Regions from separate parts of the Homo sapiens genome. Here all the other regions are linked to region 1. The links come from fine-mapping of genetic effects on gene expression. A gene starts in region 1. Each other region holds a variant in brackets. All regions are shown on one strand. Distances are from middle to middle.

Evidence for each region. PIP is the estimated chance that this variant, and not a neighbour inherited with it, causes the effect.
Region 2: its variant is fine-mapped to the expression of ANPEP in whole blood (TOPMed, PIP above 0.99).
Region 3: its variant is fine-mapped to the expression of ANPEP in whole blood (INTERVAL, PIP above 0.99).

Annotation. Positions count from the first base shown.
Region 1 is chr15:89,811,352-89,819,530 of GRCh38, forward strand. It overlaps ANPEP (alanyl aminopeptidase, membrane), which reads right to left and starts at 3,501. Exons shown (of 21, transcript NM_001150.3): 1 at 3,421-3,501. RefSeq lists an enhancer at 3,070-3,569, promoters at 3,437-4,591, 3,437-3,925 and cis regulatory regions at 3,540-3,545, 3,797-3,925, 3,833-3,836, 3,835-3,864, 3,882-3,884.
Region 2 is chr15:89,839,145-89,847,323 of GRCh38, forward strand. The region is part of intron 8 of ARPIN-AP3S2 (ARPIN-AP3S2 readthrough); the gene reads right to left. The region is part of intron 4 of AP3S2 (adaptor related protein complex 3 subunit sigma 2); the gene reads right to left. It overlaps LOC124903552 (a long non-coding RNA gene), which reads left to right. Exons shown (of 2, transcript XR_007064754.1): 2 at 1-200. Among named protein-coding and RNA genes, the nearest start is that of MIR5094, 7.5 kb to the right of the region's middle. The variant A/C (reference allele first, on the strand shown) is at 4,917.
Region 3 is chr15:89,873,093-89,881,271 of GRCh38, forward strand. All of the region lies in intron 7 of ARPIN-AP3S2 (ARPIN-AP3S2 readthrough), which reads right to left. The region is part of intron 3 of AP3S2 (adaptor related protein complex 3 subunit sigma 2); the gene reads right to left. It also overlaps the pseudogene LOC100631255. Among named protein-coding and RNA genes, the nearest start is that of MIR5009, 6.8 kb to the right of the region's middle. The variant T/C (reference allele first, on the strand shown) is at 3,505.

The DNA of each region.
Region 1 (8,179 bases):
AAAATTGTTCCTGGGCCGGGCGTGTTGGCTCATGCTTGTAATCCCTGCACTTCGGGAGGCTGAGGCGGACGGATCACGAGGTCAGCAGATCGAGACCATCCTGGCTAACACGGTGAAACCTCATCTCTACTAAAAATACAAAAAATTAGCCGGGCGTGGTGGTGGGCGCCTGTAATCCCAACTACTCGGGAGGCTGAGGCAGGAGAATGGCATGAACCCGGGAGGCGGAGGTTGCAGTGGGCCGAAATCGTGCCACTGCACTCCAGCCTGGGCGACAGAGTGAGACTCCATCTCAAGTAAAAAAAAAAAAAAAAAGAAAAAAAGAAAAAATTGTTCCTCTAGGTAGCTCCTAAAAGGATCCTGTCCAGTTGCACCCGCTTTGGGAACTGCTGCTCCACCCTGTATGATGTTGGGGTTGCTGGCCCTGCGGGTTGTCTTTGGTGCAGGCTCTTTCTGCCAGTGAGCAAAATGCATGTGTTCCTTTCGCTGTGAATTTCTTGACGGGGTAGAAGCCGAGCTCTCAACCCACTTCAACTAAAGCAGCCTTTCTATGGGTTTATGTATTTCTTCCCTGCCTATGTTTTAGTCCAGAAAACGTAAGTTCTTCTAAACTAAAACCAAAGCCAAAACCAAAAAACATGAAGGTTGACAACGATCATGCCAGGGCATAACTAAGTCACAGTCACAGTGTGGAAGACACCCACACTTGTGGGTGGGGAGAGGCTCCTTGGTCTCAGATGTGAAGTGCAAGAGGCTTTCTACTCTAATATGAAGACTCCAGGAGCCTGGGAGGGGCTGTGGCCGGGAGAGCTGAGCACCCGTGGCCGGGTGAGCTGCTGTGTTATCCATGCTCCATCCCCGACCACTGGGTCCTTGGGTAGGCCCCACCCACTCCCACTCAGTGTCCCTGACTGTGAACTATGAGACTGGGAGCTCAGGGACAACCTGGGGCTCATTGTCTGCTCTGAGGGAGCAGTGAGCGAGAAGGGTAGGGACGAGGCTGGGCCTGGGCCAGGGCACACTCTGTCCCCGCAGGCCCCTGGCTTTCTCCCAGGCTTCTGAGGCCTCCGCCCATAGCTGCATCACCCCAGGGTGCTTCCTCTGGGAGCCTTGGACATTGCCCCTCCTGCAAGAACCTCAGAAGGCCCCAATGGGAAGTTGCCTCTCATCAGCCTCTTCAGCCCAATGCAGGGCACACAGGAGGAAGGAGCAGAGGCATTTGTGGGTGGGGGAAGTACACATAGGGTTTGTGTGGGGCCACAGATCCTGCCTGGCAACTCCTGTCTGCCAAATGGGGGGTGATTATCCTGGTGAGACACATGGTAGGTGAAACTGAGCACCTACTATGTGCCCTACCAGGATAATCACCCCCATTTGGCAAATGAGGACACTGAGGCACAGAAAGGTTAAGTGATTTGCCCAAGGCCACACAGCTAGTTAGCAGCAGGTTCCACAGCTTAACTACATATGCCTCCTAAAAATGTCCTCCCATACAGCCCCTCACATCTACTGTGGCCGTGCCAAGGGGAGTTGAAGACCACAGGAGAAGACACGCACCCATTTGGCCAGACCAGGGCTGGGAGCTGGGGGTAGTTCTCAGAAGTAGAACTTGTTAGCCAGGGAGTGCTGGGGGCTGCTTCCAGACACAGGCCTGTGGAGGACCCACATCTTGCCTCCAAGGTGTGACTGGGACCACTGTAGGGCCAGGAGTGACAGGCACCCGGGGTGAAGCCCGGGCTAGGGATAGATGGCTGCCAGCCTATGTGAATAAGGACACCCCAGGGCCTCGGTGTGCGGCTGACACACTGTCCATGCCATGCCTCCAGGGCTGTCCAGGAGCCCCAGCATAGGGTTCCAGATCTCCCACCAGAGCCAGCCCAGGAACTGGACCCAGTTCCAACACCTTGGCTCCTTCCGACATGGGGACCCCCATCTATGTCCTCAGAATGCCTAGCATACAATTCTTACAGCGATGGGGCTGGAGGCCTTAGCTTAAAGGCTGTAGGGGTGTAAGGAGCGCCAGCGTGTAACGAAGGTCTCATTCCCCAGAAGGCTCTGGGGGAAGCACAGGGCAGGCGGCTGGGCTGCCTCAAGACACTGGGCCGGTTTCCCCACCTGTGAAGCGGGAGCAGCGCTGTGGGTGGCCTCCTTGCACTCATAGTGTGGCCTTCGAGGCTAGGGCTCCACAGGAAGGTGGCTGAGAGTGGATGAGGGCCTCATGGGCCCAGCACACCCTCCCACAGGGAGAGGGGAGTCCACCCTCTTCCCTGCCCAGCTCCCCCATACCCACTGGGGCTAGCCAGCCTTCCTGTGGGACAGAGGCTGTCCCCACTTCCTCCTGGTCACCCCTACCCCACACGCCCACCTCCCCTCCACAAAACACATACCCTGAGGGGCCCTCTGGTCCAAGCCTCCCCTTTCACAGGTGAATTAACTGAGGCCCAGTAAGGCCAGGGCGTTTAGAGACTCAGGGATGAAGCCACATCAGACCTCAGGTCTGGCTGAGACCAGGGCTCTGACCACCCCCGAACACGGCCTGGTGGGTTGCAGTCCAGGGGCTGAGGTGGGGGAGGAGTGGGGATCCAGTCACAAAACCCCAGGACATAGCCCACCTGGGCCGTCCCTGCCCACCGCACTGCTGGGGGGGGGGGGTGCGTTCTGGAGTCATTTGGGGAAAGGATCCCATTGGCCCTGTTTAGGGGACCTTTTCCCAGACCAAGAGTGGATTGCAATGGGGCCCTGGATCTGTCTCAGTTGCTCACCAGGGAGGGCGTGGAATAGGCTCCACAACCCCCAAACCTCGGTCCCCATCCATGCCCCGGCATCTTGGCCGGGTTGTAGGAGCGAGGGAGAACGCGACTGTAACGCGGGCGTTGAGCACCTAGAGTTCCCCTTCCTCTTCACTGAGAGCTGCGGCGGAGGCTTTAGACCGAGGAGCGAGATCTAAGGTTAAAGAAAGGGCCTCTGAGCCCAGTGTTGGCCAGAGACCCCACAGGCGGGCCGGGTTCGCCCTTTGCCTTCGGCCGCGCCCCACCCACCAGGGACAGAGTGGCCGCGGCCGAGCCGGGTCCACCCGCCGCAGCTTAGCTCCGCTCCGCCGCCCTCCCCGTCCGTCCTCCCCAGGCTCCCGTCGCCCTCGCCCACCCTGGGGCCCCCTCCCCAGATGGGAGCCCCTCCGACCCCTGCGAGGCCCGCTGGGGACCCACTTGACCGCGAGATCGTAGTGGGAGCTCGGCCAAAAGAATTCTTCGCTTTCCCTGGCCCTCAGTTTACCCATCTGGGAAGAGGGGCGTCGCGGCCGCAGAAGTCCAGCTCCGCACGCGCCAAGCGCTGGGTCTGCAGCTCCCTCGGTTCCCGCGCACCCAACTGCCCCACGACCCCTACCCGCGCCCGCAGCCCCCGCCCTCCCGCCCCACTTGCCTGGGCCGCCGGGCGCTGGAACCTGGACCCTGGACCCTGGCGGGTTCCGAGCTGCGCCGCCGCCGTCCCTGCCCCTCCAGCACTGGACTCCTCCTTTCCCGTCTTTTTAAAGGGAAGTAACCGGACCCGACCACTACTCCACCCGATTCACCCCTAGCGGGCCGCCCGCCCGCAGCTCCGCCCGGGCTCCTCCCCCGTCCGCCCGCGGCTTCCCGGGAGCCCCCCAGGGCTCCTCCGCTCCTCCGACGGCCCGGCCTTCCCCCCGGGGCCTGGGATGCACCAGGGCTCCTGCTGCCCCCGACGGGGTCCCTGTCGCCGCAGCCCGCGGGACCCGCCGGCCACATCTGGACGGCATCTGCCGCGGGGGAGGGGCTCAGAGCCTCGCCCTGAGTGTCCCGCAGGGAGCCTTGTGCATCCGGGGCAGGAAGCCAGCGCATCCCGTGCAGACGGGTGGTGCAGATAACGGACCCGCCACAGCACGCAATTCAACTTTCTTGGTACCTGGGACTCGTAGTTCAGAAGGCGCAGTAGCACGACCTTGCGAAAAAGCACCGGAGTCGGGAACACGCGCTTCTCATTTTTTTCTTTTTCCTTTATTTGTTTTTGAGACAGAGTCTCGCTCTGTCGCTCACGCTGGAGTGCAGTGGCACTTTCTCCGCTCACTGCAACTTCCTCCTCCTGGGTTCAAGCGATTCTCCTGCCTCAGCCTCCCGAGTAGCTGGGACTACAGGTGCACGCCACCACGCCTGGTTAATTTTTGGAGTTTTAGTAGAGACAGGGTTTCACCATGTAAGGCTCGTCTCGAACTCCTGACCTCAAGTGATCCGCCCGCCTTGGCCTCCCAAAGTGCTGAGATTACAGGAGTGAGCCACCACACCTGGCCTGCGCCTCTCATCTTGATCCTGCTTGCAGAGGTTGTGCAGCCACCGGAGCCCCGCCAGGGTGGGGCTCCCTGTCTCTGAGCAGCTTTAATGGGCGGTACCAGATAATATTTGTATTGGTTCCCTGTGGCTGCCGTAACACAAACATAAAACAACACTAATTTACTATCTTACAAGTTTTGTAAAATCAGAAGTCCAAAATGGGTCTCGCTGGACTAAAAGCAAGGGGGTTGAGGGATACAGCTTTCTTGAGGCTGGAAGGGAACCTGTTTCTTTGGCTTTTCTGGCTTCTAGAAGCTGCCCACATTCCTTGGCTGGTGGCCCCATCCATCTTCAAAGCCAGCAGTGGCCCACCAGTCTCTCACAATCTGTCACTCTGACACCAACTGTTCTGCCTCTTGCTTCCACTGGTGAGCATCTTTGTGATTACATCGGGCCTACCCAGATAATCCAGGGTAATCTTTCTATTTTAAATCAATGGATTGGCAACTTGAATTCCACCTGCAACTGTAATTTCCCTTCGTGGGGTAGCATAACATATTCACAGATTCTGGGCATTAGAACCAGGGCATCTTTTGAGGAGGAGGATATGATTATGTCTACCACAATATTCAAGCTGACTTCCAGACTTTCAGATTTATAATCAAATTTAAGCTCTTCCTTATCCATGATTGGAATCCTTGGGACAGTTAAAGCCTTGCACTGCATGGTCCAAATTGATGGCTTTGTGACTGGCTGTGTTTTATTATTTTACTTGCACTTGCTCTTCTTTTGGAAACTTCATGGAGGACCAGGGTACCTCTAGGTAGCAGCCTTGCTTCTCCTTCCTAATTTGCTCTGTACTCTTAAAAACCAGGTCACAAACATATCGGAATATAGAATTGTGTGTAAAGTAAGAGTAAGTAGGCTGTGAGTGAGACCTCAGAGGCTATTTTGTTTTTTTTCTCTCTCCAGTCTCATGCATGTCTGACTCTCTCCACTATCATATCTGGCATAATCTCCTCCATGTCTGACAAGCCAAGGAAAACACTACATCAGGCCAGGAGAGAATCTTCCCCCCGGAGCTCTGCCTCTCCCACCCAGGCTCCGCGGAGATTTTAAGAGGAGTAAAGATCCTGCTGTGGCAGAAGTGCAACCCAGCTTTCTGGAGGGCAGTTTGGGGTTAGGAATGAAGATCACTTTCAGAAATTTAGCCTGAAGAGGCTGGGCGTGGTGGCTCATGCCTGTAAGGCAGGTGGATCACTTGAGGTCGGGAATTCAAGGCCAGCCTGGGCAACCTGGTGAAACTGTGTCTGTACTAAAACACAAAAATCAGCCAGGTGTGGTGGCGCATGCCTGTGGTCCCACCTACTTGGGAGGCTGAGGCACGAGAATCGCTTGAACCTGGGAGGCAGAGGCTTCAGTGAGCTGAGATCACATGACTGCACTCCAGCCTCGACTACAGAGCAAGACTGTCTCAAAAAAATAAATAAATTTAGCCTAAGGAAATAGAATATTTATATGCAAGGCTTTTCACTGCAGTATTACTTATAATACTGGAAAATCAGAAATAGCCTAAGTGGGCTGGGCGTGGTGGCTCATGCTTGTAATCCCAGCACTTTGGGAGGCCAAGGCAGGCAGATTACGAGGTCAGGAGTTCGAGACCAGCCTGGCCAATGCAGTGAAACCCTGTCTCTACTAAAAATACAAAAATTGGGTGGGCATGGTGGTGGGTGCCTGTAATCCCAGCTACTGGGGAGGTTGAGGCAGGAGAATCGCTTGAACCCGGGAGGTGGAGGTTGCAGTGAGCCGAGATTGCGCCACTACACTCCAGCCTGGGTAACAGAGAGAGACTCTGTCCACCCCCTGTGAAAAAAAAGATGAAGAGACAGTGCTTGCTCCTGCAGAAAGAAAATTCATGGGCTCATAAACATGTAAAAAGATGTTCAATAACTCACTTATTAAGAAAATGAAAATTATAACTACAAAAGATACTATTCTTCACTTACCAGATCAGCAAAGATAAAAAGCAGTTTGGTAGGTCAGGCACAGTGGCTCATGTCTGTAATTCCAGCACTTTGGGAGGCTGAGGCAGGAGAATCACTTAAAACCAGGTGTTCGAGACCAGCCTGGGCCACGTGGCAAAACCCTGTCTCTACCAAAAAAAAAAAATTAGCCAGGCGTGGTGGCACGTGCCTGTAGTCCCAGCTACTTGGAAGAATGAGGTGGGAGGATTGCTTGAGCCTGAAAAGTCAAGGCTGCAGTGAGCCATGATCGTGTCACTGCACTCCAGCCAGAGCGATAGAGTGAGTCCCTGTCTCAAAAAAAAAAAAAAAAGTTTGGTAACACACTATTCGCAAGGGTGGGAGGAAAACAGGCAACCCCCTGCATTGCTGGTTGGTGTGTAGACTGACTCGACCTCAAAAGAGAATATTTGGGCAGTATTTATCAAACATATAAACACATGTCCTGTTTGACTTGGCACTTCCAGAAATTTATCCTACAGATAATGCTCACACGTAAGTGAAAGGAATACACAAGGCTTTCCACTGCATCGCTGCAACATTGAGCCAAAACCACAATGACTTTTGCACCAATCTAATAGCTGGAGACAACCTAAATGTCCACCAATAGAGATGGGATAAATGAATGATTATTGTATGCCCTGCAATGGAATGCATATGGCTATCAAAAATAACTAGGATTCTCCTTACAGAACGCTCCCCAGGACAGGTTGTTTAGTAATAAAACCTAGACGCAGAGCCGTGTTCAAGTCGTTTATCAATTGTACTTAAATGGAAAAAGCACAGAGACACACAATTTGCTTTTATATGTGCACGCGCTGATAACACGAGTTGTTTCCCAGGAAGGAAACTGGAGCTGGAGAACAGGGTGGGAAACGCATTTTTCAGCATATCCTTTTGTTCTCTTGAATCTTGAACCATGTGAATACCGTGTCTAATCAAAATATAAATAAAATTAAAAGTGAAGACGAAAGACCAGAAGATTAACAGGCTTTATAATATAATTTTTTTTTTGAGATGGAATTTTGCTCTTGTTGCCCAGGCTGGAGTGCAATGGCGCAATCTTGGCTCACTGCAACCTCCGCCTCCTGGGTTCAAGCGATTCTCCTCCCTCAGCCTTCCGAGTAGCTGGAATTACAGGCGTGTGCTACCACACCCACCTAATTTTGTATTTTTAGTAGAGACAGGGTTTCTCCATGTTGGTCAGGCTGGTCTCAAACTCCCAACCTCAGGTGATCCACTTGCCTTGGCCTCCCAAAATGTTGGGATTACAGGCGTGAGCCACTGCGCCTGGCTATAATATAAAAATTTGAATGCCAGGTGAGGTGGCTCACATCTGTAATCCCAGCACTTTGGGAGGCCGAGGCAGGGGCATCGATTGAGGCCAAGGCAACATAGCAAGACCCCATCTCTATTTTAAAAACTTTTTTTAACTTGGCTGGGCGCAGTGGCTCATGCCTACAATCCCAGCACTTTGGGAGGCTGAGTCAGGTGGATCACCTGAGGTCAGGAGTCCCGGCCAACACGGTGAAAATCTGTCTCTACTAAAAATACAAAAATTAGCCGGGCATGGTGGCAGGCACCGGTTATCCCAGCCACTCAGGAGGCTGAGGCAGGAGAATCACTTGATCCTAGGAGACAGAGATTACAGTGAGCTGAGATCGCACCATTGCACTCTAGCCTGGGCGACAAGAGCAGAACTCTTTCTCAAAAAAAAAATAAATAAAAATTATAAACTTATATTTGTGGATGAAATGATTTGATGTCTCAGGTTTGCTTTGACCTAATCCAGAAGGGGTGGAGAAGTCAGGAATGCTCAATACAGCATGATTTAAAATAGGGGAAAATCAGAAACAATTAGATGTTCAGTAATGG
Region 2 (8,179 bases), 28 kb after region 1:
GTCCAGAGTCTAGAGTCAACCACCAGTTTACTCTGTCAGCAATGCAGAGTCAAGAAGAAAGATGTGTCTGCATATCTGGGCACTGTGCACTTCTGACATCTGAAGTTCTCTGGCATTGGCTCCCTGTATTTTGCCCTCAGTAAGTGCAGGGAACTTCTGATCTTGAGGACAGAGTATAATAAATCAAATGTATTCCCTTGCGTGTGTGCCCACATTGAGCTTTATTAACCACTGTTCTGTCTACACACACGCACACACACACTCTCACGAGGTGTTCTTACATTTTATACAATATGAATTATTCATTAGCTATATGCAAATGAAGATTTAATGGTAAAAGTCTCATATTTAGATAATTTACAAAATGTTAAACAAGACTGGTTTTAAAATTATTCCCTGGGGGAATTCCACTGTTTATACTTCCCCATCAAGAAATAGGCCTCTGAAAACAGTATGGTGGTTCCTCAAAAAGATTAAAAACAGAATTACCATATGGCCCAGCAATTCCACTTTTGGATATACACTCAAAAGAACTGAAAGTAAAGACTTGAAGAGAATGTGTACACCCATGTTCATAGCAGTATTATTCACAACAGCCAAAAGGTGGAAGCAGCCCAAGTGTCCATGAACAGACGACTGGATCAACAAAATGTGCCATAGAAATACAACAGAATATTATTCAGCCTTAAAAAGGAAAAGAATTCTTTTTTTTTTTTTCATCTGAATTGAGATGCTGTAAAAGGGAAGGGAATTCTGAGACACAATGTAACACGGATGAACCTTGAAGATACTATAAGTGAAACAACCCACACACAAAAGGATGAGGACTGTGTGATTCCACTCCTGTGAGGTACCCAGAGTAGTCAAATTCAGAGACAGAAACTGGAACGGGGGCTGCCATGAGGCAGGGGGAAGAGGACAGTGGTGGCTATTGTTTAATGTGTACAGAGGTGCTGTTTTGCAAGATGAAGAGCTCTGGAGACGGATGGTGGTGGCGACTGCACAACAATGTGGATATACTTAATGCCACAGAACTGTAAGCTTAAAAATGGTGAAGACAGGAAACTATATGTTACATATTTTACCACAATTTAACAAAAAAGGAGAGAAATAGTCCTCTATACCTGCACTTTCAGTATTTATTCCTTTTATTTAGCCAATCCCTGTGTGGGTAGAAAGTAGTACTTGTTGAGTATCTATTATGAACCAAGTACTTTATGTAACTTACCTTAATTTTACAACATTCATCTAAGGTAGGTAATATAATCTTCACTTTATTATTATTATTACTATTATTATTTGAGGCTGAGTCTCACTCTGTCACCCAGGCTGGAGTACAGTGGTGTGAACTTGGCTCACTGCAACCTCCGCCTCCTGGGTTCAAGCGATTCTCCCAACTCAGCCTCCTGAGTAGCTGGGATTACAGGCACCCGCCACCATGCCCAGCTAATTTTTATATTTTTAGTAGAGTCGGGGTTTCCTCATGTTGGCCAGGCTGGTCTGGAACTCCTGACCTCAGATGATCCCCCTGCCTTGGCCTCCCAAAGTGCTGAGATTACAGGCGTGAGCCACCACGCCTGGCCTGACTTCACTTTATATATGAAGAAATTGATACATTTTATATATGAGGAAAAGGCAATAAAATGATCCCAATGTCATGTATATTAGCAGCAGAATGGTGCTGATTCCGGAGCTCATGTTCTACCCTTTATATCATACTTCCTCAGAATCCCAAACTATGTCTTCCACTCTATTCATCCCTGACCCCTAGTCCACATGAAATCATTTAAGACTTGTCTTTGGTGTGTCAATATCTTGTATTAATTCTTCCATGCTTTATCTCCAAGGCCTAGAACAACGCTCAGAGTAGGCATGCTAAATGAATGAAAGGCTTTCCATATATCTAAGTAGCATATTCCTTGGGCTTTAGGGACTTCGAAGATAGACAACAGTGTGGTGGTGGGGGCTTTCTGGAGAAGGTATAGTAAAAGGCCTAACACATGATGTCGTGGAGACTAGTGGCTGGTTAACAGAAAAAGTCAGTTAAAACTTCTTATTTAACACTGCATCATAAAGTCAGCATTTTCAAATGCTGTTCAAAATATGTTCCAAATGCAAAAAGAAGAAATAAAAATGCAAACTCCATTTTTGTTATAACTACAGGATATCCAAAATTCCAAACCCCCAAACAGGTGAAAAAGCTGTCAAAAGCAGGGAGCTCAGGCAGGGACTCCTTTGCTTCACAGAAGAAAAAGAAGAAAGGATGCTACAGGGAGAGGACAGGGAAGCTGGTGATCTCAGAAAGATCTGCAAAAATATGTACTTCCTGTGGGTAAAGGACACACTCCAGCACCAAATTAATTCCTTGTTTTTGGAAGGCAGGAACTTCCTTGGACCTGAAGTTGAGGCTAAATGAGAAATCACGCAAGCTACATTTGCCTCACAGAGGTGGTGTCTGTGGTAGTAGAGAAGACATCCTTTGCATTGTGGAGATGCTAAGAGACGCCTTGCCTATCTCGATTGGCTGGCTAGAGACTAAGGGTAAACGGACTCACCCAGAACCCTAAATCAAGGGAACAACTGTAGCTAGCCCAGAACAGAGTTTTGGTAGCTCCTCCAACAAACATCCTGCAAAACAGCTGGTCCCTGAAAAACTTGCCTATTTAAAGATAAGTATACAAAAAATCTAAACAGGATCTATATAAATATACAACGAGAAAAAATTAGGAAAGAAATAGGAAAACCAAATGGCAGACTAAGACCACAGACTGGAAAAGGGCCTCCATGGACTAGATACAATGGTAATAAAATATTTTACACAAAGAAAAAAAGAAAACTTGATAAAATAGTTGTCTCTATGAAATGAGAGCTCAAAGCAGAAATACAAGAACTTTAGCAGAGGTAGGGAGACGAGAAGAGAAGACAAGCTGCATACTGGCAGAACTGAGGAAAGAAGTGAAAGGAAAAATACTGTTACAGAAATGAAGGTGAAACTGGAAGAAGCAAAGGGAGAAGAAACTGCTAAAAACACACTAGGAACAAAAGGAGAGAAATGGAAAAAAAAAATGAAACCAAAAAGGGCTAAAAGAAATAGAGAAGAAACAGTTACAAAAGACAGCAAAGGAGATGTAATATTTGCATAAAAGAAAACTTTAACATGAATGGGAAAAATATGTAAAGATATGTTCATAAAGATAGAATCTAAGGTGTTTCTGAACTATAAGAGGATTGGGGTCTACACACTGAAAGGTCACACTGTATCCCAGGGGAAACAAATTCAGAATAGGCAGTACCAAGATACACCTTTAGGTAAGGTTTCTGGGTTCCTGCAACCAGGCAAAAAGATCAAATCACTTAAAAGAGAAACAAAATAATGAAAATTTCCACATTAATATTTAATGCTAACAGAAAATGGAACAACACCTACAAAATTCTCAAGGACAGAAAGTGTGACTCAAGGACTTTATTTATTTTTATTTTTATTTTTGAGACGGAGTCTCGCTCTGTTGCCAGGCTGGAGTGCAGTGGCGCGATCTCGGCTCAGTGCAACCTCCACCTCCTGGGTTCAAGCGATTCTCCTGCCTCAGCCTCCCAAGTAGCTGGGACTATAGGCATGCGCCACCATGCCCAGCTAATTTTTGTATTTTTAGTAGAGACGGGGTTTTACCATGTTGGCCAGGATGGTCTGCATCTCTTGACCTTGTGATCCGCCCACCTTGGCCTCCCAAAGTGCTGGGATTACAGGCGTAAGCCACTGTGCCCAGAAGACTCAAGGACTTTATACCCAGTCAACTGTCCAGCAAGGGTAACAGAATGGGGACCATTATTCCCAGGTATTTCTTTTTTTCTTTTTTTTTGAGACAGAGTTTCACTCTTGTTATCCAGACTGGAGTGCAATGGCGCGATCTCCGCTCACCACAACCTCTGCCTCCCCGGTTCAAGCGATTCTCTTGCTTCAGCCTCCTGAGTAGCTGGGATTACAGGCATGTGCCACCACGCCTGACTAATTTTGTATTTTTCGTAGAGATGGGGTTTCTCCATGTTGGTCAGGCTGGTCTCAAACTCCCAAACTCAGGTGATCCGTCCGCCTTGGCCTCCCAAAGTGCTGGGATTACAAGCATGAGCCACTACACCCAGCCAAGTATTTCTTAAGGAATCTACAAAAGGAAGCACTTGTGCCAACTAACAGGTGACTGGAAAAACTATGGCAGGGCCAGGCCTGGTGGCTCATGCCTGTAATCCCAGCACTTTGGGAGGCCAAGGTGGGTGGATCATTTGAGGTCAGGAGTTCAAGACCAGCCTGGCCAACATGGTGAAACCCCGTCTCTACTAAAAATACAAAAATTAGCCAGGTGTGGTGGCATGCACCTGTAATCCCAGCTACTCAGGAGGCTGAGGCAGAATTGCTTGAACCCGGGAGGTGGAGGCTGCAGTGAGCTGAGATCGCACCATTGTACTCCAGCCTGGGTGATGGAGCGAGACTCTATCTCAGAAAAAAACAAACAAACAAAAGTTAGCTGGGCAGAAGTGGCATGTGCCTGTAATTCTAGCTACTTGGGAGGCTGGGGCAGGAGAATCGCCTGAACCCAGGAGGAGGAGGTTACAGTGAGCCAAGATCGTGCCACTGCACTCCAGCCTGGGCAACAAGAGTGAAACTCCGTCTCAGAAACAAAAACAAAAACAAAAACAAAAAAACTACGGCAAAAACTTACGGTGAGCACTGAAAACTACTTAACTGTAGGTCTAAGACTAAAATAGGATTAGGGTAACAACAGATCGTCAATACTATATGCTTTGATGATGTATAAAACTCCAGCTAGCAAAAACTAGGAAGAGAAGAGGGGAAAAAGGAGGGAGGTAGAATACGAACACTGATTTCCTCACCCTCAGTAACTGAGAGTCCATGGATAGCATTT[A/C]AAACTAAAGTAATAAAGATATGGTTAATCTGACTTTTACTGTGACTTTTCCCGTGAATGTTCAAGCCTACCATCATTGTTATAAACAACAAAACTTTGAGAGCCACTGAACTTTTGGCTAGGGCCAAAAAACCCTCTTTCTTTCTTTCTCTTTCTTTCTTTCTTTCTTTCTTTCTTTCTTTCTTTCTTTCTTTCTTTCTTTCTTTCTTTCTCTCTCTCTCTCTTTCTTTCTTTACTTTTTTCTTTCCTTCCTTCCTTCTTTCCTTCCTTCCTTCTTTCTTTCTTTCTTTTTTTAGAGACAGGGTCTTGCTCTGTCACCCAGGCTGGAGTGCAGTGCCATGATAATAGCTCACTGCAGCCTTGAACTCCTGGGCTCCAGCAATCCTCCTGCCTCAGTCTCATGAGTAGCTGGGCCTATAGGCATGTGCCACCATGCCCAGCTTTTTTTCTTTTTTTTTTTAATTTCTAAGTAGAGATGAGGTCTTGCTATATTGCTCAGGCTGGTCTTGAACTCCTGAGCTCAAGGGATCCTCCCGCCTCAGCCTTCCAAAGCATTGGGATTACAGGTGTGAGCCAATGTGCCCAACCTAGAAGGATCTCTTCTGCTGATTAGAGTTTTTTGCCATTATTGCAAAAAACTCACCCAGAATGCATCATCTACAATTTCCAGTTTCTTAAAGTTAGAACTCAAACTGCTGTGAAACAGTAAGTACAGAATCCTAGATTTTTAAGATCCTTCCACCTCTACTCTTCCATAGTTATCTTGCCCAAACCTAATTCAGCTTCATTTCCTTTTTAAAGTACTTGTCCTTCCAAAGCATTCCTCTTACTTTTCACAGAGTAATTTTCTTTTCTTTTTTTTTTTGGAAACAGTCTCACTCTGTTGCCCAGCTGGAGTGCAGTGGCACGATCTCGGCTCACTGCAGCCTCTGTCTCCCAGGCTCAAGCGATTCTCTTGCCTCAGCCTCCTGAGTAGCTGGGACTACAGGCGCCCGCCACCACGCCCAGCTTATTTTTTGTATTTTTAGTAGAGACGAGGTTTTACCATGTTGCCCAGGCTGGTCTTGAACTCCTGAGCTCAGGCAATCTGCCTACCCCGGCCTCCCAAAGTCCTAGGATTACAGGCGTGAGCCACCATGCACAGCCAGAATAATTTTCTTTTCTCCCTCATAATTTAATCTGTATATTATTTAATCAAATTACATAATTACAGTACCAGTTTACTGGCATAAAGAGATCTGGAAACATCACAACTGACCTTTGGTAAGCAAAATGACTCAAGTGTAAGTGAGCAATGGATGAGCGAACAGCTGCCCGTGTTAGTCCTGCTAGTCAGTTCAGACCTTGTCCACTGAATATGAAGTTGACCATGAAAGATGGCTAACATTTCTCTGATTGGAGATAGATGGGACTTAAGAAAGTTGGAGGCTGCCAAGCATGGGTGTGGGAGCAAGCAGTCAAGAATCAACACTGAACTCATGTACCTAAAGAACTGGAGATAGAGTCAGGGCACAAAGAAGGGTTCTGTTAAACAACAGAAGTTGGCTGATGCGCTGACCTTGAGGATGCCTGCAGAAATCTAAGTAAATACCTGAGAGAACACTGACAGATAAAGTCACAAACCAACACAGGGAGGCTGGTAGGGAAAGAAAATCTGAGACGTGAGTCATGTAAATGGTATTCAAAACCACAGGAACAGAAAGAAAGAGGCTAAGTCTTCGAGAGGCCTAAACTCAGCTTCACACAGTGTGCATTGAACAAATATGAATTATGAAGTAATAATAATTCAACCTTCTACTCAGCAAGCATGGGAAATAATGACACTAGCAAAATTCACTCAGAAGTGTTTATTAACAGAGTTTAAACAAAAGTGCTACTGATTTTTCAGTACTTGGCAAATCCAATGGTAATTCAACCTAAAAATAATTACAACCAGGATGAGTTTCATCTGACATAAAGATTAGGATAACCCCAATAAACCAACAGGATATCTTGATATAAGGGGAAGGCAATAGAGAAAATGCTTCGGGTGATAAATCTGAAATCTTAAAAGGTAAAATGAGGCATAGATACTGATGTTTTCCAAGATCAAGATACATAAATTTATGACAACATTTTAGTGAGTGAAAGTCGGTGTTTTTAGCTCTGTCCTATTTAAATTTTTCTCTTGGAACCCCTGAAAATAGTCAAGAGTAGGAATGAGTACTGTAGTCAAAATGTCAATTCCTCTAAAGACAATCTAACCTGTTATCGAGTCTCTCCACTCTCCCCCAACACCTCTGGACATCTGTGTCTCTTTATTTTTTTTTTTTCTTGAGACATGGTCTCACTCTGTCGCCCAGGATGGAATACAGTGGCATGATCTCGGCTCATTGCAACCTCCACCTCCCAGATTCAAGCGATCCTACAGCCTTAACCTCCCCAGTAGCTGGGACTACAGGCCACATGCCACCACACCCGGCTAATTTTTTTTCTTTTTTTTTTGAGACGGAGTCTCGCTCTGTGGCCCAGGCTGGAGTGCAGTGGTGCGATCTCGGCTCACTGCAACATCCGCCTCCCGGGTTCAAGCAATTCTCCTGCCTCAGCCTCCCGAGTAGCTGGGACTACAGGCGTGTGCCACCACACCCAGCTAATTTTTTGTATTTTTAGTAGAGACAGGGTTTCACTGTGTTAGCCAGGATGGTCTCGATCTCCTGACCTTGTGATCCGCCTGCCTCGGCCTCCCAAAGTGCTGGGATTACAGGTATGAGCAACTGCGCCCAGCACACCTGGCTAATTTTTGTATTTTTTGGTAGAAATGGGGTCTCACCATGTTGGCCAGGCTGGTCTCAAACTCCTGATCTCAGGTGATCCGCCCACCTCAGCCTCCCAAAGTGCTGGGATTACAGGTGTGAGCCACCTCGCCTGGCCTCATTTTTTCTTTTCTAGGATGCTATCACCTCATCCTCCATCCCTTGAAGGTACTTGCTTCTATAACTGGACCTACTTACTGTCTGCAACACAAAGTTAACCTCTGCAGACAAAAGTAGATTAAGACCAGGCATAGCAGCTCATGCCTGTATTCCCAGCATTTTGGGAGGCCTAGGAAGGAGGATTGCTTGAGCCCAGGAGTTCAAGACCAGCCTGGGCAACATAGTGAGACCTCTGTCTCTCTAAAAAAAAAAAGTTTAAAAACTAGCTGGGCATAGTGGCACAAGCCTGTAGTTCCAGCTACTCGGTAGGCTGAGGTAAGAGGATCACTTGAGCCTGGAAGTCAAGACTTC
Region 3 (8,179 bases), 62 kb after region 1:
ACACATAGTTAAATGGGTCTATTTCTCAATCACTATGCTGGGTACTTGGTAAGCCCTTATAATCCTGCAGTTCAAGTCCTTCAGTTCTGGGAAATTTTATCGAATTATTTTGTTGAGAATTCCCTCCTTTCCACATTCCTAATCAATCTTTTTGGAGCTGCTTATATTCAAGTATTGGACCTCTGTCTGTCTTCTTTTTTTTTTTTTTTTGAGACAGACTCTCGCTCTGTTGTCCACGCTGAAGTGCAGTGCCACGATCTTGGCTCACTGCAGCCTCTGCCTCCTGGGTTCAAGCAATTCTCCTGCCTCAGCCTCCTGAGTAGCTGGGATTACAGGCATGCACCACCACGCCTGGCTAATTTTTGTATTTTTAGTAGAGACGAGGTTTCACCATGTTGGCCAGGCTGATATCCAATTCCTGACCTTAAGTGATCCCCCTGTCTTGGCCTACCAAAGTGCTGGGGTTACAGACGTGAGCCACTGTGCCCGGCCTCTGTCTTATTTTCTCATCTTTTCTCTCCCATTTTCCATCTCTGCCCATTCTGAGACAATTGATTAACTTGATTTTCTAATACTTCAGTTGAAGTGGGTTTTTGTTTGTTTCCATTTCCTCTCATTTTTTATTTCTAAGAGACCATTTTGTTCATTTTGTGTGAGCAACAAGGCTGTGAGTGTTTTTGTTTAGCACCCATTTAGCAATAAGACATAAATGGGTCTTATTTTATTTCTAATTAATAAATGGGTCTTATTATTATTTAAAATAAATGTCTTATTTCTCTGTGGCTTTTTTTTTTTTTTTTTTTTTTGAGACAAGGTCTCACTCTGTCACCCAGGCTGGAGTGCTGTGGTGTGATCTCAGAACACTGCAGCCTCAGCCTCCCGGGTGCAGGTGATTCTCCTGCCTCAGCCTCCTGAGCAGCTGGGACTACAGGTATGTGCCACCATGCCTGGCTAAAATACTTCGTATTTTTAGTAGAGATAGGGTTTCACCATGTTGGCCAGGCTTTCTCTGTAGCTTAAGAATAGGGTTTTGGGTTTTTTTTTTTTTTAAACTGTTTTCCTTTCTTTATATGGTGTCCATTTTTAAGTTGCTTTTTATTGTTTGTTCATTTTATCTCCTTCTTCTATGTTAGAGGTTTTCCGCAGATGTCTGATAATCCTTTGTTTTTCATTTGTTACAAGAATAAAAGGCTGATTGAAAGCTCTACAATCATGGATATTTCTTGCCCACCTCCATGGTTATTTGCTTCCCTAGCGAAATCTGTCTCACGTGTCCATGTGAAGAGACCACCAAACAGGCTTTGTGTGAGAAACAAGGCTGTTTATTTCACCTGGGTGCAGTCTTTCTAGGTATCAAAATTCATTGTAAAGCTTTGTTAACTAAAATAGTATAATACTAAGGCTGGGTGAGGTGGCTCATGCCTATAATCCCAACACTTTGGGCAGCCAAGACAGGAAGATCCCTCGAGCCCAGGAGTTTGAGACCAGCCTGGGCAACATAGCAAAACATCGTCTCCACAAAAAAATAAAAATAAAAAAATTAGCCAGGCATAGTGGCACACACCTGTAGTCCCAGCTACTTGGAAGGCTGAGGTGGGAGGATTGCTTGAGCCCAGGAATTCAAGGTTGCAGTGAATTATCATTGCACCACTGCATTCCAGCCTGAGTGACATACCAAGACCTTGTCTCTAAATAAATTTTAAAAATAAAATAAAAGTATAATTCTAAGATGGGAATATAGATCAGTGGGGCAGAATATAAATTACTGAAACATACATGTTTATAAAATGCAATTTTAAAAATAAGAGTCGTATTTTAAGTTGGTGGGGAAAAGACAAGCTAACTGATAATGTTGGAACAGTTATCCTTTGGGGGAAAAATAAAGTTACATATTTCAATGCAGACATAAAAATATCTAACAGATATTAATGAGCTAAATGTAAAAAAATAAATTAAAAAAGCAACGGCAGATCCCCTGGGTGCCATCCAGGCCCCCGGAAGGAGCTATTCAGTCTGTGGCAAAGCTTTGAGGTGGCTGGTACTGCTAAAAGCGGCACGTGGAGGTGCCCCCTAGCGGCCTGAGCTCTGTTCTGCGGCAGCCAGAGCACATGCGAGGAGAGCCAGACCACAGTTTGCAGCAGCACCATCCCAAAAGGCTGTTTTCATTAAAGATGTTTCATGAAACTAAGACTGGGTTCTCAAGATAGGGTAGTTATCCAGGACAAGATGGACTAGCCCCAGAAAAAGACATCCCCAGATAGTGGGTGGAAAAAGAACTGTCAGATGCATCTGTTTTTCTTACTCAAAATATTATTCAAGATCACAATCAAGGTCAAGAGAAAGAAAACAAGAAAGAAAACGAAGGACGAAAACACAAAGCGCATGCTGATGGGCAAAGAGGCTGAACTGAAGACATTGCAGACTCAGGTAGGAAAATAATAAGCCTATTTCATGATGAGGCAAGAAGACAGGAATCCTACAACAAATCCTCTAAGAAATACACTTCTGAGGAGCATAATGACAAAGAACATTATTCTGATAAAGGAAGAGAGGGACTAAATTCATCTGAAAATGGGCTGGGCGCAGTGACTCACGTCTGTAGTCTCAGTACTTCGGAAGGCCAAGGTGGGCAAATTGCTTGGGCTCACAAGTTTGAGACCAGCTTGAGCAACATGGCAAAGCCCTGTCTCTATAAAAAACACAAAAGTTAGCCAGGCGTGGTGGTGTGTGCCTGTGATTCCAGCTACTCGGGAGGCTGTGGTGAGAAGCTTGAGCCGGGGAGACAGAGGTTACAGTGAGCTGTGATTGTGCCACTGCACTCCAGCCTGGGCAACAGAGTGACATGCTGTCTCAATAAATAAATACATTCATCTGAAAATGATGAGGACAGACACAAACACAAAGAAAGCCATCAAGAAGCAGAAGTCACTCAAGATACAGGTCTCGTGAAAGGCATCATCGTAGTAGAGGGAAAAGAAGTAGTCTCAATCCAGAAGCAGAGAGAAGAACGATCATGATCTAGAAGCAGGAAAAGAAAACCATGGGCTGGACATGGTGCTTCACACCTGTAATCCCAGCACTTTGGGAGGCCAAGTCAGGCAGATCACCTGAGATTCAGGAGTTTGAGACCAACCTGGCCAACATGGCAAAACCCTGTCTCTACTAAAAATGCAAAAATTAGCCAGGCGTGGTGATGCATGTCTGAGGTCCCAGCTACTTGGGAGGCTGAGGCAGGAGAATCACTTGAACCCAGGAGGTGGAGGTTTCAGTGAGCTGAGGTCACACCACTGCACTCCAGCCTGGCCAACAGAGTGAGACGCCGTCTCCAAAAAGGAAAGAAAAAAAAAAGAAAGAAAGAAAACCATGGATCAGATCTTGCTCCTGTTCAAGATAAAAACTACATCTGTGTTGCGTGTGAAAAATAAGTAAATAAATAAATATGACATGCATAGGAAAGAAGCAGAAGTAGTACAGGAAGCAGAAGACAAGAGAGAAAGAAGAGCA[T/C]TGAGAAACTAAGATTTAGCAGAAGTTTAAGCCAGATTTCCAGTTCATCTCTCTTCAGAGGCAGAGGCACAGCAAAGGATGCATAAGAAGCTTTAGCTGGGAGGATGGACTAGGCAAAGAAATTACAAGAACAGCAAGAAAAAGAAATAGTTGGGATGGGTGTTGGGAAAAAATTTTTTAAAAGAAAAAGAAATCATTGAAAAACAAAAACAAGAAATAGCTCCAGTTACTAGAGATTTTGTTCTCAATGTTGCTGCCCTGTTGGCATCAGGAATGCCAGTAACTCAGATAGCTATGGCAGCTCAAATGGGAGCCCTGCAAGCAACAGCTTTGGCAGAGACAGAACAGCTGTACCTAGGGATTATGACACAGCAGCTGGAAATCCAGTGAAATTTGCTGAACAAGAGGAAAAAAGTCAAGGCAAGAAAAACTGGGCAAACTCCCCGTCTGCTGAACTATGACTTTGGGAAACAAGGACCAAAATGTCATATATATGGAAATTAGTGGGTATTAAGAGTGAAGATGAAGCTAGATGTAGCTCACTTGATGAAGAAAGTTAGAAGACTTTGAAGCAATAGGAAGTACTGTATTTAGAAATTTAGATGCTCAGTATGAAAAGGCAAGATCACAGACCCACACATAAAGAGGAACGGGATTGGGTTTCACATCTTCAACGTGAGAAATGGATGCAGTTTGAAAAAGATCATACTTTTAAGGTTTGGGAACTTATAGCCTTCTTGTTCTGATGTCAGGTCCTTGTTCCCAAAGAGCTAGTGTTCCAGTTTGTAGGGTGTTGCACTGGCTTTTCTTCCTCTCTCTTTTTTTAAGCTGTGGTAAAATACACGTAACATAAAATTTACCATCATAGCCATTTTTTAAGTGTACAATTCAGTAGCATTCGATAACGTTCATAATGTGCAACCATCACCACCATCCATGTTCATATCTCTATTTTATAAACCTGAAACATGGCCGGGCGCGGTGGCTCATGCCTGTAATCCCAGCACTTTGGGAGGGCGAGGCAGGTGGATCACTTGAGGCCAGGAGTTTAAGACCAGCCTGAGCAACATGGTGAAAACCCCCAGCTACTCAGGTGGCTGAGGCACAAGAATTGCTTGAACCTGAGAGGTGGAGGTCACGGTGAACCAAGATCATGCCACTGTACTCCAGTCTGGGCAACAGAGTGAGACTCTGTCTCAAAATAAAAAAAATTAAAAAAAAGAAAAACACCAAAAAACTGAAATGCTATTCCCATTTGCATTGGCTTTAATTTATTGAAAAATAAGATTTTTTTCATAAATATCAGATCAGTGATATAGGTGTTGTAATCATGTTAGACTCGCTTTCACTAAACCTGACAGGACTATAGAAGGACAATATTTTTTGGTTCGTGAATTCTACTTTTTGAACATAAAGTGCTGTAGGTAGAATGAAATCTCATACATGCATTTTTTTGTGTCTGTTATCTTGTGTACTTTTGTACTTAACCTTGTACAGTTATTTTCATCTTTTAAAACATAAAATAAATGTTATGCAGATGTTCGTTAGAAGATCTTGCCACTGGTACATAATCCAGCACAAATAAGCTGGGTGGTGATGATAATAAAAATGGTTTTCTCCAAAGGAAAAAAAAAACAACAGCAAAACTGTAGGAGAATATTTTCATACCTTGGGAGCTATGAAGAAAACAACTTCCAGATGTACCTACATAAAGCAAAAAGACCAATGGAGTAGGAGAAAATATTTGCAATAAATATAACAAAAAAAGAATATGCATACAATTAGGAAAAAATCTAACTTACAAACAAACAAAACAAATGAGCCTTTTGAAAAGTGGACAAATATCGTAGACATTTCCAAATACCAAAGATACGCAGCCTCACCACTATTCAGGGAAACTCTAGTGAAAACAATGAATTTGCATTTTTTCACCCATCAGATTGGCAAACATTTGAAAATATTCTTATTTTTATCTTATTTTTGAGACAAGGTCTTGGTCTGTCATGCAGGCTGGAGTGCAGTGGTATAATCATAGCTCACTGCAGCCCTGATCTCCTGGGCTCAAGCAATCCTTCAACCTCAGCCTCCCAAGTAGCTGAGAATCACAGATGCATGCTACCACCCGAGGCTAATTTTTGTTGTTGTTGCTGTTTCTTTGTTTGTTTTGATACAGGGTCTCTCGCTCTGTCACCCAGGCTGGAGTGCAGTGGCATGATCTCGGCTCGCTGCAACCTCCGCCTCCCAGGTTCAAGTGATTCTCCCGCCTCAGCCTCCTGAGCAGCTGGGATTACAGACGTCCCGCACAATGGCCCAGCTAATTTTTGTACTTTTAGTAGAGACGAGGTTTCACCATGTTAGCCAGGCTGCTCCAACTCCTGACCTCAAGTGATCTGCCTGCCTCAGCCTCCCAAAGCGTTGGGATTACGGGCGTGGGCCGCCGCACCCAGCCAGGCTAATTTTTTCGTAGAGACAAAGTCTCACTATGCTGCCCAGGAAGGTCTCAAACTCCAGGGCTTAAGCGATCCTCCTGCTTTGGCCTCCCAAAGTATTGGTATTACAGGCGTGAGCCATTGCACCCAGTGTGAAAATATTCTTAATATTCAAAAGTCAGTGAGGTTATGGGTAAACAGATACATTCTTATTACATTCCATTAGTACAAGTATCAAAGGCAAAGCCTTTGTTTGGAGGCAATTCAGCAGTATCTATCCATTTAAAAAACACATGCCCTTATTAAAGCAGCAATTCCAATTGAGAAATCTGTACTATGGGAATTAACATATGTGCATATAGATGCACGTGGAAGGATGTCATTGCAGCATCCTTTACAATAGCAAGAAATTGGGAAAAACATAGATGCCCACAAGTAGCATGATGAATCAAAGATGATGATACATCCATATTATGGAAAATCACACACCGTCAAAAAAAACTGCATGTGGAAAAAGCTCCAGAACTTAAATGATGAAAAAGAAAGTTTTAGAACTATATATAGAGTATGATTACTTTTAATTTTTATTAATTTTTATTTTTTGGGGTCTCACTTTGTCACCCAGCCTGGAGTGCAGTGGCACAATCTCGGCTCTTTGCAACCTCCACCTCCTGGGTTCAAGTGATTTTCCTGCCTCAGCCTCCTCAGTAGCTGGGACTACAGGCACCTGTCACCACGCCTGGCTAATTTTTTTGCATTTTTAGTGGAGATACAGTTTCACCATGTTGGCCAGGCTGGTCTTGAACTCCTAACCTCAAAGTTAGGTTGCAGTGAGCTGAGATCACGCCACCGCACTCTGGGCGACAAGAGTGAGACTCCAAATTATATAACAAACTTACATAGTACTGGAGGCATTATAAATTAACATACTCTTCATTTTTTTTTTTTTTTTGAGATGGAGTCTCACTCTTGTTGCCCAGTGTGCAGTGGCATGATCTCAGATTTTAGAGTTATTAGAATGTGATAAAATGTGCATCTTAGGATATATAAAATATGATATTATAAGCCAGGATCTAGACTTCACTGGAGTCTGGGTGACGAAGTGAGACTCTGTCTCCAAAAAATAAAAAATAAATAAAAGAAACTTTAATGTAAGATTCAAAAGAAGAAATGAATAAACAAGAGGGAAATGCTAACTGTTAATTCACTTCTAATTATAATTATAATCCAACAGGGACTTTTTGGGACCTTTACAAATTATTCAAGAATACATATGGATGAACAAATAGTTATAAATATCAGAGAACGTACTGAAAAACAACTGCCACAAAGGGGAAATAACTAGTCTTACTAGGTATGTGAAACTATATTGAAACAATAAATAGCCAGGTGCAGTGGCTCACGCCTGTAATCCCAACACTTTGGGAGGCCGAGGTCAGGAGTTTGAGACCAGCCTGGTCAACATGGTGAAACCCCCGACTCTACTAAAAATACAAAAATTAGCCAGGTGCGGTGGTGGGCGCCTATAGTCCCACCTATTCAGGAGGCTGAAGCAGGAGAATCGCTTGAACCCAGGAGGCGGAGGTTGCAGTGAGCCGAGATTGCGCCACCGCACTCCAGCCTGGGCAACAGAGCAAGACTCCGTCTCAAAAAAAAAAAAAGAAACAATAAATAAAACAACATGAAAGTAATGCAGAAAGAAAAATGTAACTCAGTTAACTCAGTAGAATAAAATGAAGAAATGAAGGGTAAAAACTAAATCCAATTATGTATTAAATGTTTATTCAACCATTGTTAAAGGTGTGATGACTACATGCTAGGAACATACCATTGTTGACACCACAGTCAACAAGTCATGTTCTTATCCAGTTTATATTCTGGGTGTGGGAAGAACAAGGAGGCAAATGAAACAAGATATTTTCTATTGTCCTAAGTGCCCTGAAGGAAGTAAACAGGATGATGTGACAGGGGTTACTTCAGATAGAGTGCTAAGAAAGTTTGTCCAAGGATTAAAATTCGAGCTGAGACATAAATGGTAAAAGTCAGTCATTGAAAGAGCTGAAGTGAAGGAACCTAGATGAGAGTATTCCAGGGGACAGAACAAGTATAAAGGCCCAGACACAAAAATGTACTTGTGTTTGAAGAACAGCAAGAAGCCTAGAGCATAGTGAAGATGAGCGTGTATACGGTGAGGGGAGAGAGAGGCAAAGGAGCCGGACCATGTTGGGCCTTACAGGCTGTAATAG